4 separate regions of the Homo sapiens genome follow, and regions 1, 2 and 4 are each linked to region 3. Evidence: fine-mapped expression QTL. A gene starts in region 3. Each other region holds a variant in brackets. All regions are shown on one strand. Distances are between the middles of the regions. Region 1 overlaps PDE2A (phosphodiesterase 2A). Region 2 overlaps PDE2A (phosphodiesterase 2A). Region 3 holds the start of PDE2A (phosphodiesterase 2A). Region 4 overlaps PDE2A (phosphodiesterase 2A).

Evidence for each region. PIP is the estimated chance that this variant, and not a neighbour inherited with it, causes the effect.
Region 1: its variant is the best candidate, but not a certain one, in a credible set for the expression of PDE2A in whole blood (INTERVAL, PIP 0.53).
Region 2: its variant is the best candidate, but not a certain one, in a credible set for the expression of PDE2A in blood mononuclear cells (TOPMed, PIP 0.62).
Region 4: its variant is the best candidate, but not a certain one, in a credible set for the expression of PDE2A in whole blood (INTERVAL, PIP 0.66).

Annotation. Positions count from the first base shown.
Region 1 is chr11:72,602,317-72,604,816 of GRCh38, forward strand. All of the region lies in intron 4 of PDE2A (phosphodiesterase 2A), which reads right to left. Among named protein-coding and RNA genes, the nearest start is that of MIR139, 12 kb to the right of the region's middle. The variant CT/C (reference allele first, on the strand shown) is at 972.
Region 2 is chr11:72,576,742-72,579,452 of GRCh38, forward strand. It overlaps PDE2A (phosphodiesterase 2A), which reads right to left. Exons shown (of 31, transcript NM_002599.5): 27 at 2,543-2,642; 28 at 2,156-2,268; 29 at 1,735-1,773; 30 at 1,492-1,598; 31 at 1-853. The coding sequence ends at 643. Among named protein-coding and RNA genes, the nearest start is that of PDE2A-AS2, 6.5 kb to the right of the region's middle. The variant T/C (reference allele first, on the strand shown) is at 1,506.
Region 3 is chr11:72,673,430-72,676,165 of GRCh38, forward strand. PDE2A (phosphodiesterase 2A) reads right to left here and starts at 993. Exons shown (of 31, transcript NM_002599.5): 1 at 708-993. The coding sequence starts at 778. RefSeq lists enhancers at 1-188, 189-814, 815-1,441, 1,442-2,066, 2,217-2,717.
Region 4 is chr11:72,594,927-72,597,426 of GRCh38, forward strand. It overlaps PDE2A (phosphodiesterase 2A), which reads right to left. Exons shown (of 31, transcript NM_002599.5): 6 at 1,667-1,722. Among named protein-coding and RNA genes, the nearest start is that of PDE2A-AS2, 12 kb to the left of the region's middle. The variant T/A (reference allele first, on the strand shown) is at 1,556.

The DNA of each region.
Region 1 (2,500 bases), 71 kb before region 3:
TCCACCCTGTCTCTCCCCACACTGCCCTGATCCCATTCCCTGCCCATTGCCTCGGGCCTCCTTATCTGTCTCTATGATCCAGCCTCCACGCCACACCTGCTGCTGTTTGCCCACAGTCCAGGGTTTCCTGGAGTAGCACCCTCCCCACACCCCCACCTCCTCGGGCACTGCTAGAGCCTCAGGCTCCACGGCAGCCTGTAGGTCAGTCCCTCTCCCTCCTGGGGGGACCAGAGCCACAAAGGTCACCATCGGAAGGACCCTGTACCCAACCCCACCCATTTCACAGAAAAAAGGCCAGAAGAGAAGTCGTTTTCTCAAGGTCACTCAAGGCTAATCATTGGTTGGGACTTGGGAGTGCAAGTAGCAATCACTGAGCTCCTACTGTGTGCTGGGCACTGTGCCAAGCACTTGGCCCCTGTTACCCCATTAAGCCAATAGACCGGGCCTCAGGTAGGAAAGCAGAGAGACAGGGAGGGGGCTGAGCTAGAATCCAGACCTGTCTGAATCCCATTCCAGTGCTCTTCCCTCGTCCATACACCTGGGTCTCAAGTCCCCATCCTGCTGGGAGCTCCTGAGAGCAGGGCCCAGCCAACCCTGGGGCCTCTCCGCCCTAACTGTGGAGATGGGCTCACCACCAGACACCAGGCACAAAGGTGGGCAAGCAGAGCTCAGATACCAGAGAGAGCACTGGGCCTGGGCCTTCCCCCAATCCTTTTTCAGGTAGCAGCTGAGCCTGGCAAGCCACTCACCTTTCACAGGGGCCATGGAAAGAATTCCTGTTTGGGGATGATGACGGGTGTGTCCTGATGATGGGTATGTCCCCTGGGAGGTCCTTGCTGTCCTCACTCTCTTGCCTTCTCATCCCCTGGCCCTCCTCCTGGAATCTTCAGCCCCTGTCTACCAGCAGGCACTCACCTCCCCATCTCCACTGAGCTCTGGGATAATTGGATTTGAATATTCACTTTTAATTG[CT/C]TTTTTTTTTGGTATTTTTTCCAAAGGCCTTACTGAGTCTGAAGTGGTTGGAAGGAGGATGTTGAAAGGGCAGCTGATGCCAAGGATCTGAGCCCTCTCAAAAATGCCTGGACCGCAGATACGCACCCACTCTACATGCCCAGACAGCTGAGGGGAGCATGTGTGGGTCCTAGGGAGTGAAGCAAACCTGCAGGCTGCTCCCCGCTGCCTCCTGAGCCTGTTTTCCTGCATCCCTCCCAGGAAGGCCTCCCAGGCTGCTCCGAGGAGCCTTCCTGGAGGAGTGGAGCTTATATGAAGCAAAGTTCTTTAGAATTAGAGGTGGGGGATGCTGGAGGAGAGCGAAGTTCTTTGGAATTAGAGGAGAAAGGGGGACATGACCACATTTTTCCCCTTAAGGTTCTAAAGACCTTTCAGACCATCCTCTTACAGACGGGACACAAAGGCTAGAGAGAGGTGGTAATGGCTTTGTTCCCATGCTCCTTGACGGAGAAGTTGTTAGGGGAAGGTGAAAGGAGCTCAGTGGGAGAATAGGAAATGGGAAGGTGGCTATCAGAGCAGAACCAACTCCTTCCACGGGAAAGGGCTGAGGAGAGACCAGCATCCTAGAAACCAGGGTTTCCAGCACAAGGAGGGGCCTCAGGACCATGAGTCCAGCATCCTCAAACAGGAATTCTTTCCATGGTCCCTGTGAAAGGTGAGTGGCTTGCCAGGCTCAGCTGCTACCTGAAAAAGCCACATCCCTGGACCACCTGGCCTGCTGGAAAAGCCCTCCTCACAGGGGTAGAGAGCTGCCTTCTTGGGACATCCCCACTGGTGCCCACTCTGCCCTCAGCTCCTGCCCAGTGCTCCCTGGGCCCCACAATGGCCCTGCATTCAGTGCTTAGCAGGCAATGGCCACATCCTTCAGAGCCTGCCTCCTCCCAGCAGCATGCCTGCCCCCAAGGTTTTCTCATCTGATGAGTTCCACTTCCTCTCACTTTCCCCTAAACAGCCAGGAGTCAGAAGACCCGAGTCCTAGGCCTGGCTCTGCCTCATACCTGGCATGTGGCCTTGGTCATGTCTCATGATATCCACCCATCTGGAAGATGAGGAGGCTGAATTAAATGGGCATCAAGGTATCAGGGGGCCAAGTGCCCTGATCCCATGATCCTGAAGTCAGTGATTCCAGCATTCTCTCACAATGGTAATCCCCAACAGACAGCCCTCACCATGGATCAGGCCTGATTTAAATGCTTTACATGTGTGACACATTTAATCCTCCCCACAATCCTATAAGCACCATTATTATCACCATTTCATAAACAAAACTGAGGCACAGAGAGGTTGTGTCATTTGCCCAAGGTTACACAGCTAGTAAACAGGGAGCTGAGATTTGAACCCAGGCAGTGGGGCTCCAGAACCCTCAGCAGGACGCTGCCTGTGATCTCCCTGTTCTCAGATGCAAGGAGTTGGCACTGTGAGCTCCTGCAGGCCCAGCATGCTGGGATTCCAGGTCCAGCCTCGCAGTAGTTCTCACAGCATGCCGGTG
Region 2 (2,711 bases), 97 kb before region 3:
CTGCCCATCAATCCCATCCTGCTTCTCCCCAGGGCCCCTCTCTGCAGAGCACTGAGCTGCCCCTCTGGCAGCTTCTTCCTGGGGCCCCTGTATCCCCCAGGTCCCAATCCCACCATCAGTATAGTAGTGGTCCTCAGGGGGCCTTCGCCCCGCGGCTGTTTCTAGTCCTCCCACAGAACTAAGGACTGTTTCCAAGATGCCACACTCTGCTCACTCAGATGTCTCACCTTCCCCTTCCATGAGGATCCTGGAGACCCCAAAGGGTGGGAGTCCTCAAAGGGAAAGGAGCAAAGATCTGGTGGGGCAGAAATGGGGCAAGGAGAAACCATCAAGCTGCTCAGACAAAGAATGGCTTGGGAAAGACTTGCCAAGGTGTGGTCAGAGGTGCAGAGTAGGGCCCACTGCTCATTGGTCACCCCTGTGCTCTCAGAAAACAAATTACAAAGTCTCCGTGAGGTTGGAAGTCTTGCTTCCATTATACAGACGAGAAAGCTGAGGCCCAGGAAGGTAGTACTTGTCCAGGGTCACACAGGAAGTCCTGGTCTAGGACCCAGGACCCGTGGCTCTGTTCCCAGTGCATCTGGCCAGACCAGTGGAGGGCTGTGGGAGGTGGCCTGGGCAGGGAAGTGTCCCTGGAGGGGATCACTCAGCATCAAGGCTGCAGCAGCCATTGATGGGGGCCCTAGTGCCATCCAGATCAGGCACCTCGTACTCCTCATCCAGGAAGTCCAGCGAGTTGTTACTTGGGAGGCCGCGGATGGTGAACTTGTGGGACACCTTGGTCCAGTGCTCACGGTTGGAGGCCACGCGCTCGTACAGCTCTGCCGCTTTGGGGAACAGGTCCTGCAACAGCCTGCGGGTGCATGGGGGGCAGAGGGCGAGAGGCCAGAAATCAGACCATGGGCAGCAAGAAAGACTAGGGCTACACAACAAATAGAACTTCCACAAGGGCCAGGTACGGTAGCTCACGCCTGTAATCCCAACACTCAGAGATGCCGAGGTGTGTGGATCACCTGAAGTCAGGAGTTCAAGACCAGCCTGACCAAAATGGTGAAGCCCCATCTCTACTAAAAATACAAAATTAGCTGGGCGTGGTGGTGCATGCCTGTAATCCCAGCTACTTGGGAGGCTGAGGCAGGAGAATCGCTTGAACCCAGGAGGGGGAGGTTGCAGTGAGCCAAGATCGTGCCATTGCACTCCAGCCTGGGCAACAGAGTGAGACTCCATCTCAAAAAAAACAAGAACTTCCACAAGAATGTGAGACAGAGGAGGACACCTAGGAAAGCATGATGGTCTCTTTCCACTGAGGACCAAGGATGAAGTGAAGGACCCACTGAGGGGCACAGCGGGAGACAGTTATGCCCAGAGGCAAGGGGATGAATCAGTTGGACCTGGGCCAGGCCAATCTCAGCACCTGTGTTTCCTGTGATGTCCCCACTCCAGCCTACCCTCTCTGTGCAGGGTGCAGCTTGTCCCCATGAGCTCACTCACTTGTAGATGGGCAT[T/C]GCAATGTGCTCCATGAAGCTGATTTGCAGCTCAGGGATATAGGCCTTCTCCCGGTCCATCATCTCCATCGGCCTGTTGCCCATGGCCTTCTCCTGCAGGCATCGAGTCGTCAGGCCTGTCCCTCTCATTCCTCCATCGGGTACCAGGGTCAGGCTAGTTCAAGCCCTCCCTGTCCCAGGCCAGGAACCCTCCCCCATCCTGGACATCCTGGGGTCACTCCACACATACCAGGTCTCCCTGGGAGAAGAATTCTTTGTAGATCAGCTCCTGAAAGGCCAACACTCTCATCACATCCTCTATGTAGGATACATCCACCCAAGCTCCTCTGACAGCCCGTTCCCAGGAGAGAAAACTGAGGCCCAGGGATTCAGTCCCAGCTCAGGAGCCGTCCCCACCAGCCCCAGCTTGGCAGTGGGATGGCCTGAGGCAGGGAGTGGCTGGGTTGGGGCCCACCTTCCACCAGCCACTGACTTGCTAGGTCTGTTCCCCTCTCTGAGTCTCCATTTGTCACCCTGAGATGGTCTAGGTTTCTGTCTCCCCAGAACACAGCCAGGCTGAGCTGAGCAGAGAGAGGGTATTCAGGCACAGGGGGCACCCAAAGCTGGGCAGGGTGGGCAGCCTGTGCCTTCCCAGGGAGGACTACACCTACCGCGATCTTTCTCGTAGTCTTCCAGCCCTTGGTCTGGTCAGAGAGGTCACAGGAGGTCATGAGGAGGCAGAGGAGAAGTCTGTGGTGCTGCTTGTTGTTTCGGTCGTAGCCCACTGTTGAGGGGAGGATGGGGTCAAGGAGCGGGGCCCAGCCTCTTTGCCCTTCTGAGGACAAGGCTCCCAGGGCCCAACCCAGAGCGGTCCAGGGAATTGGGCACCCTTGATGGGAGCCAAGGGGCCAGTGCTGGGTCTGCCTGGGGGGGGCCGTGCAGCCAGAGAAGGGTTGATGTTGCAGGGGATGGGTCTGCACCCTGGGAATGCTCCCCTGGCAAATCCTTCCCCTGGTTGTTCCTCCCCAGCCCCAAGGACTGGGGCTAACAGCAGTCACCCTCAGCCATCTTCTGGAGGTCCTTGAAGATGCGGAGATGGTGGGCCAGGTCTGTGGCCAAGATGATGTCCCGCATCAGATCCAGCATGCGCTGATAGTCCTGAGGCGAGGGCAGGGGTGTCATGCCCTCCTACTGGACACCCCCACCCATTTGCCCATCCCAGTGAGC
Region 3 (2,736 bases):
ACCACCTCGGCAGCCCTTAGTAGAGGGGTGTCGCCACGGCGCCCCCCACTCACTTGCACATGCACCCCCCTGCACGTGGACACACACGAGGCTGGCACCATATTCCATCTGGCTCCGTAGAACCCTATCCTGGGACAGACGCTTTGGGGTAAAGTTTCATAAAGTGGTGTCCCTGAACCCCAATTCCCAATTCCATGGAAGGTGGTTACCTCTAACCCTCTCTTGCTCCAGGGCCACTCTTATTCATATTTTCTCCATCTTTCCCCCTCCCCACCTCCTTCACACACACATAGCCTTGGTGGGCCAAGACACTCTCCCTCTCCGGGTCCTGAACCAGCCTATTGCAGCCCCGAGAGCTCCTCCCAACTACTTGGCAGACCTCCCCCTCCCCACATACACCCTCAGCCCTTGAAGAACCGGTTCAGGTTCATTATCAGCCCCTCCTCCAACCAGCAGCCCCTTCCATGGGACCCCAGCCTCATCACCTACTAGGTTGACGTTAGACACCCTCATTCTGCTCAGAGGTAACCTGCCCCCACCCCAGGCTGCAGTCTGGCAACGCGGGGAGGAGGGGTGCCCAGGAACAGGATCGATCCTTCCACGTGGCTCAGCTCCATGCCAACCCCAGCTCCTTGGAGGGACTCCCAGGACCCTGTCTGTGGCACCTCTCACAGCCGCTCACCACCCCAGCCCCTCACTATACTCACGGCTCAGCCGGTCGCGCTGCCGGGTACTGCTGGCTCCTGCAGAGGATGGAGTGGCCGCATGCCTGCCCCATCACTCCTCATCGTCCGCCTCCCCAGCCAGACTAAGGTGGCACCTCGCCCTGTCCCCGCTGCCTGGAGTTCAGGGCAGGGCACCCCCAGCAGGCACAGGGACCAAGAGCAGTGGGCTGCCCCCTACTCAGCCTGGACTCAACACCCCAATCCAGCTCTGCTGCCCCGCTGCTCCCGCCTCTCCCGCTGCCACTGCCTCTGCTGCTCGGCTGGCTCTGGGAGGAGGTTGGAGCAGGTCTGATAATGCAGAAGGGGGAGGGAGGAGGGAGGAGGAACAGAGAGAGGCCCAGACAGAGAGGGAGAGAGGGAGAGAGGGAGGGGTAGAGAGAGAGTCTGACTGGGAGAGAGGAAAAAAGACTCACAGACAGAGAGACTGAGAGATAAACAGAGACAGGAAGGGGGACAGTAACACATGAAGAGGGAGAGGAGAGAGGGATCAGAGCCTTAGCGAGATCAAGATGGAAGTACAAAGAGACCAGAGAGGCATAGAGAAACACACACACAGAGGAACAAAGGCAGAAAAGGAAAAAAAATCAGAGGCAGAAATAGAAAGAGAGTGGGGTAGGGGGAAAGGGGAGTGGCTGACAGAGGAGAGAGGGGAGAGGACGAGGGATTTACAATCCTCATGGGCTAGGATGGGGCTGGGGACTTGAGGGGCAGCAGACCCAGACCCTCTGCTGCCCCATCGCAGAAGCCTTCAGGATGAGGGGACACGCTTGTGCCCTCAAGTCTGAGAGATCAGGCCTCCATGCACAGCTAGCTGCCCTCTCCTCTGGGCTCCCTCACCCGGTGTGTATCATCTCCTAGCGTGCATCCCAGCCTGGAGCTGGGTCCACGGAAGACTTAGGGGGCTTTACTGATGGCCTTTGGACTCAGAGCCTTGTCACAGGGCCCACCTCTTGGTGGCTTGGTTTAGCTGGGACTTGGAGCTGATGCGTGAGCATGGACTTCTACCAGGATCTGTGGAGACCTAGGCCACAGCCTGCCCCACATGGCCTTCGCTGCTCACAGACTACAGGCATGGGGGAAGGCCTGTTGCACCCCCACCCTGCTTCCAAAGAGGACTCCCTAGGATAAAGCTATAACCTAGTGAAATAGAGGCATTTTAGGCCCTAGGACAGATAGAGAGTTGTCACAGCAGAGCTACTATTGTATGCAGGAGAAACAGCTCCACACCTTGAGGCAGGAAATGGGGATTTGGATCCTGGCTTCACCATTAACTTACTTATTCATTGGCCTACCAGTGGCTGAGCTCATGGCTCACACTATCCCTTGTCTCAGAGAAGCACTCGGGCTGGGGAGTGGGGAGGGGAGACTTGCAGGCTGTGACAGAAAGAAGCACAGGGTCTGTGAAGCCCAGAGGGACCCCTGACCTAGTTTGGGTGGTGGGGGGGCGGTTAGCAAGCATTTCTGGAAGAGAGGGTCCAAGCTGGGTCTTTTAAGGCAGAAGAGGGTATATTCCAGGGTAGAGGAGCTACAGCAAACCCTCCACAGCAACCCCATCTCTCTGAGCTGTGGGGAGAATACCTCCCCGCCACACAACAGGCTTCAAGCAGAGAAGTCCCTGAGGCTGAATAGAAACCTGACCCATGTTGAAGAACATGGGGGTGCACGGTGGAGGGGGCAAGGTCAGAAATGACTGAGCTTGTGTAGATGGCCTGCCCAGGCTGGGTGCTGCAGAAAGCAGTTGTCTTGTGGCCTGGGAAGTGTCAGGAAAGAAAATATGAGGAGTCTTTGCTTCCCACTGTGGCCCCAGAAGGCATCATAGAATTTTAGATCTCTGAACTCTGGGCAAACCATTTTCTCAAAGGGAACGAGGCCCAGGCTGGTTGTAAAGCAGCTGAGCCAGCCCAGAACTCATGTCTTGCTTCTCCACCTCACCTATCACTGGGGCCTCGCTGCTCCATTCCTGACAGCTAGGAAGGCATTCTCTGGGCTCAGGAAGCTGCAGCCCTGGACC
Region 4 (2,500 bases), 79 kb before region 3:
GCTCCCTGAAGGCAGAGTCGGCTCCAGCACCCAGCCTGCCGCAGGACCAGACCAGAGTTCTACTGGGTGAGTTAAGTGTAAGTGATCTGATCCCACCAGCGTCCCTGAGACACACACACACACACACACACACACACACACATTGGCCTCTGGCCCAGCCTGAGCCAAGGTGAGCAGCGGCCATGGCAAGCATTCCGCCCACAAGGGAAGCAACCTTCCAAATGTCTTCCCCTTACTTCCCTCCTGACCCAGTCCTCATAGCCTCAATCTAAGGAAGTCCTTCTCAGGCACCTGGCACCCCAGGCCCTTTGCCCTCAGCAGAGAAGGAGGTGCGTGACCCAGCCACCACCTCCCAATCCCCACCTCTGCACACAGCCCCTCACCTCAGTGCCCCTCAAAGCTGACCAGCCCTGGGGCAGACCAAGAGCAAAGAATAGGGGGAGGCGACCCCCTGAGAACTCCGTGCAACAGCAGCTCCGTTCCAGAAACCGGGGGTGGGGGGAGCAGCTTGCGGAGAAACCAAGCAGCGGCCTTGGCTCCCTCAGTCAGGAAGATGGGTGCAGAGGAGACCCAGCCAAGTACCCCTCCTCCCCTCCCCCCTCTCCTCCCCTCTCAGCCATCCCTGACTCCCACTGCCCTCTCCTGCCAGCAGCTCAGAAAGGTCAGGCGCCTGGGAAGCGTTTAATTCCATTTTAATGAGCTGGAGAGGAGTCCCCGGGGAACCAACACCTGCTCATTTATCTGTCCATGCCCCCAAGCCTGCCCTTTACTGGAATGGCAGCCCCCTCGACAGAAGCAGACCCCCAATAATAGCAATTTGGGGAACTCATCCTTTGGTTACTAGGATAGAACGAGTTTGAACCCCCACCTCCATACAGGAGAAGAAACGGAAAGAGCGGCAGAATCCCGTCCCCACAGGCTCTGCACTTCCACAATCCCCTCCACGGAGCAGAAACCCTGGGAACTCCTCGAGGGGCTGCAGAGGGAGGCTTGTCTGGGTTCTGGGGCTCTGGCAGAGCATCCACCACTTCCCACTAACACTCCTTCCTCAGCCACTCCAGAAAGCCCCCCTAGCTGCCTGTCTTCCGCCCAGCCTCAGCCCTGGGTCTGGCTGGCCTGACCATGGCCTTTCTCTCCTCAAGGCCCCCAGCTCCAGCCACTCCAAATCTCTGGCTAGTTTTCCACACTATCTCTATTGGTCAGGCCCTTATGTCCATCTGTCCCTCCGCAGCATCTCTCTTCACACCTCACTTGGTTCATGCCCTCCTGGACATTATCCCCACCCCATCTGGAGGATCCCAAAGAGAAACCAAGGTTAGTGCTGCGTACGCCAAAGGCTGGGCCTTCTAACCTTATGGGGGCTGAGAGTCCAGCAGGGGCTTGCACACCCCTCAGAAAGCTGCTGACTGGGCCAATGGCTTCATCCTACCTATTCGAGGTGGGGCAGAAGGCTGGGGTGTGGGAGATGCCCCAACTCCTCCCACCCCCACACCCCCATTTCCCCTCACTCCATCCTCGCTTATGGCTCCCATCTCTCTCTCTCTCTCTCTCTCTC[T/A]CTCACACACACACACACACACACACACACACACACCCTGGACAGGCTCCATCCACCACTCCCTCCCATGGTCTCCTCTCCCTACATCCCACCGCCTAGGCAGGCTCTTACCAAGATGACAGCTGCCACGGCCCCAGCCTCCTTGTCCGCTAGCGGCATGACCAGCACTGAGGGGGAGAGGGCAATGAGGTGCTCCTGCAGGGCTGGCGAGGCTCAGAGATACCGAGCCGGGACCCAGGTGGGGGAGACAAAGATGCAGACAAAGAGAGGCCAGGACAGAGACACACAGAGACCCCAAAACCCACAGAAACACAGAGGCGGGTCCTGAGGCAGCAACAAAAACAACCACAGCAACAGCCTCTGCATGGAAGGAAACCCCTTCACTCACAACCTTCTTGTGATCCTCCCAGGGTTGCAGGGAGGAAGGCAGGTGAGGCTGAGCACCTCTATTTTACAGATTGGGAAACTGAGGTCTAGAAAGGGGAAGTGACTTGCCCAAGATCACACAGCAAGTCAGGTCTCCTGACTCCCAGTCTTGTGCACTTTCCACATCGAGACAGAGGACAGAGACCTAGAGAGACTGAGACACGAGGCAGAGAGGGACATGGCGGACAGGAGGCATGGAGGAGAAGAAAAAGAGAAATAGGGCCAATGACAGTGACAGAGAGAATGTGAGAACAACTACAGCCCCATCCAGCATCAGGCACAGGCACATCACAACCACAGCCACGGGCCACTGAGCCCTCGCTTGTGCCAGGCCCCTAACATGCATGATCTCACTTGCACCTCCTTGAAACACCCCCTCAAGGTAAATACTATTGTCCCATTTTATAGTCAGGAAGTTGAGGCTCAGAGAATTTAGTAGTACAATAGAGAGAGAATTAGATGGAGGGACTGCTAGAGACACAGAGCAAGAGAAAGAAGGAGACAGAGATGAAGAGGAAT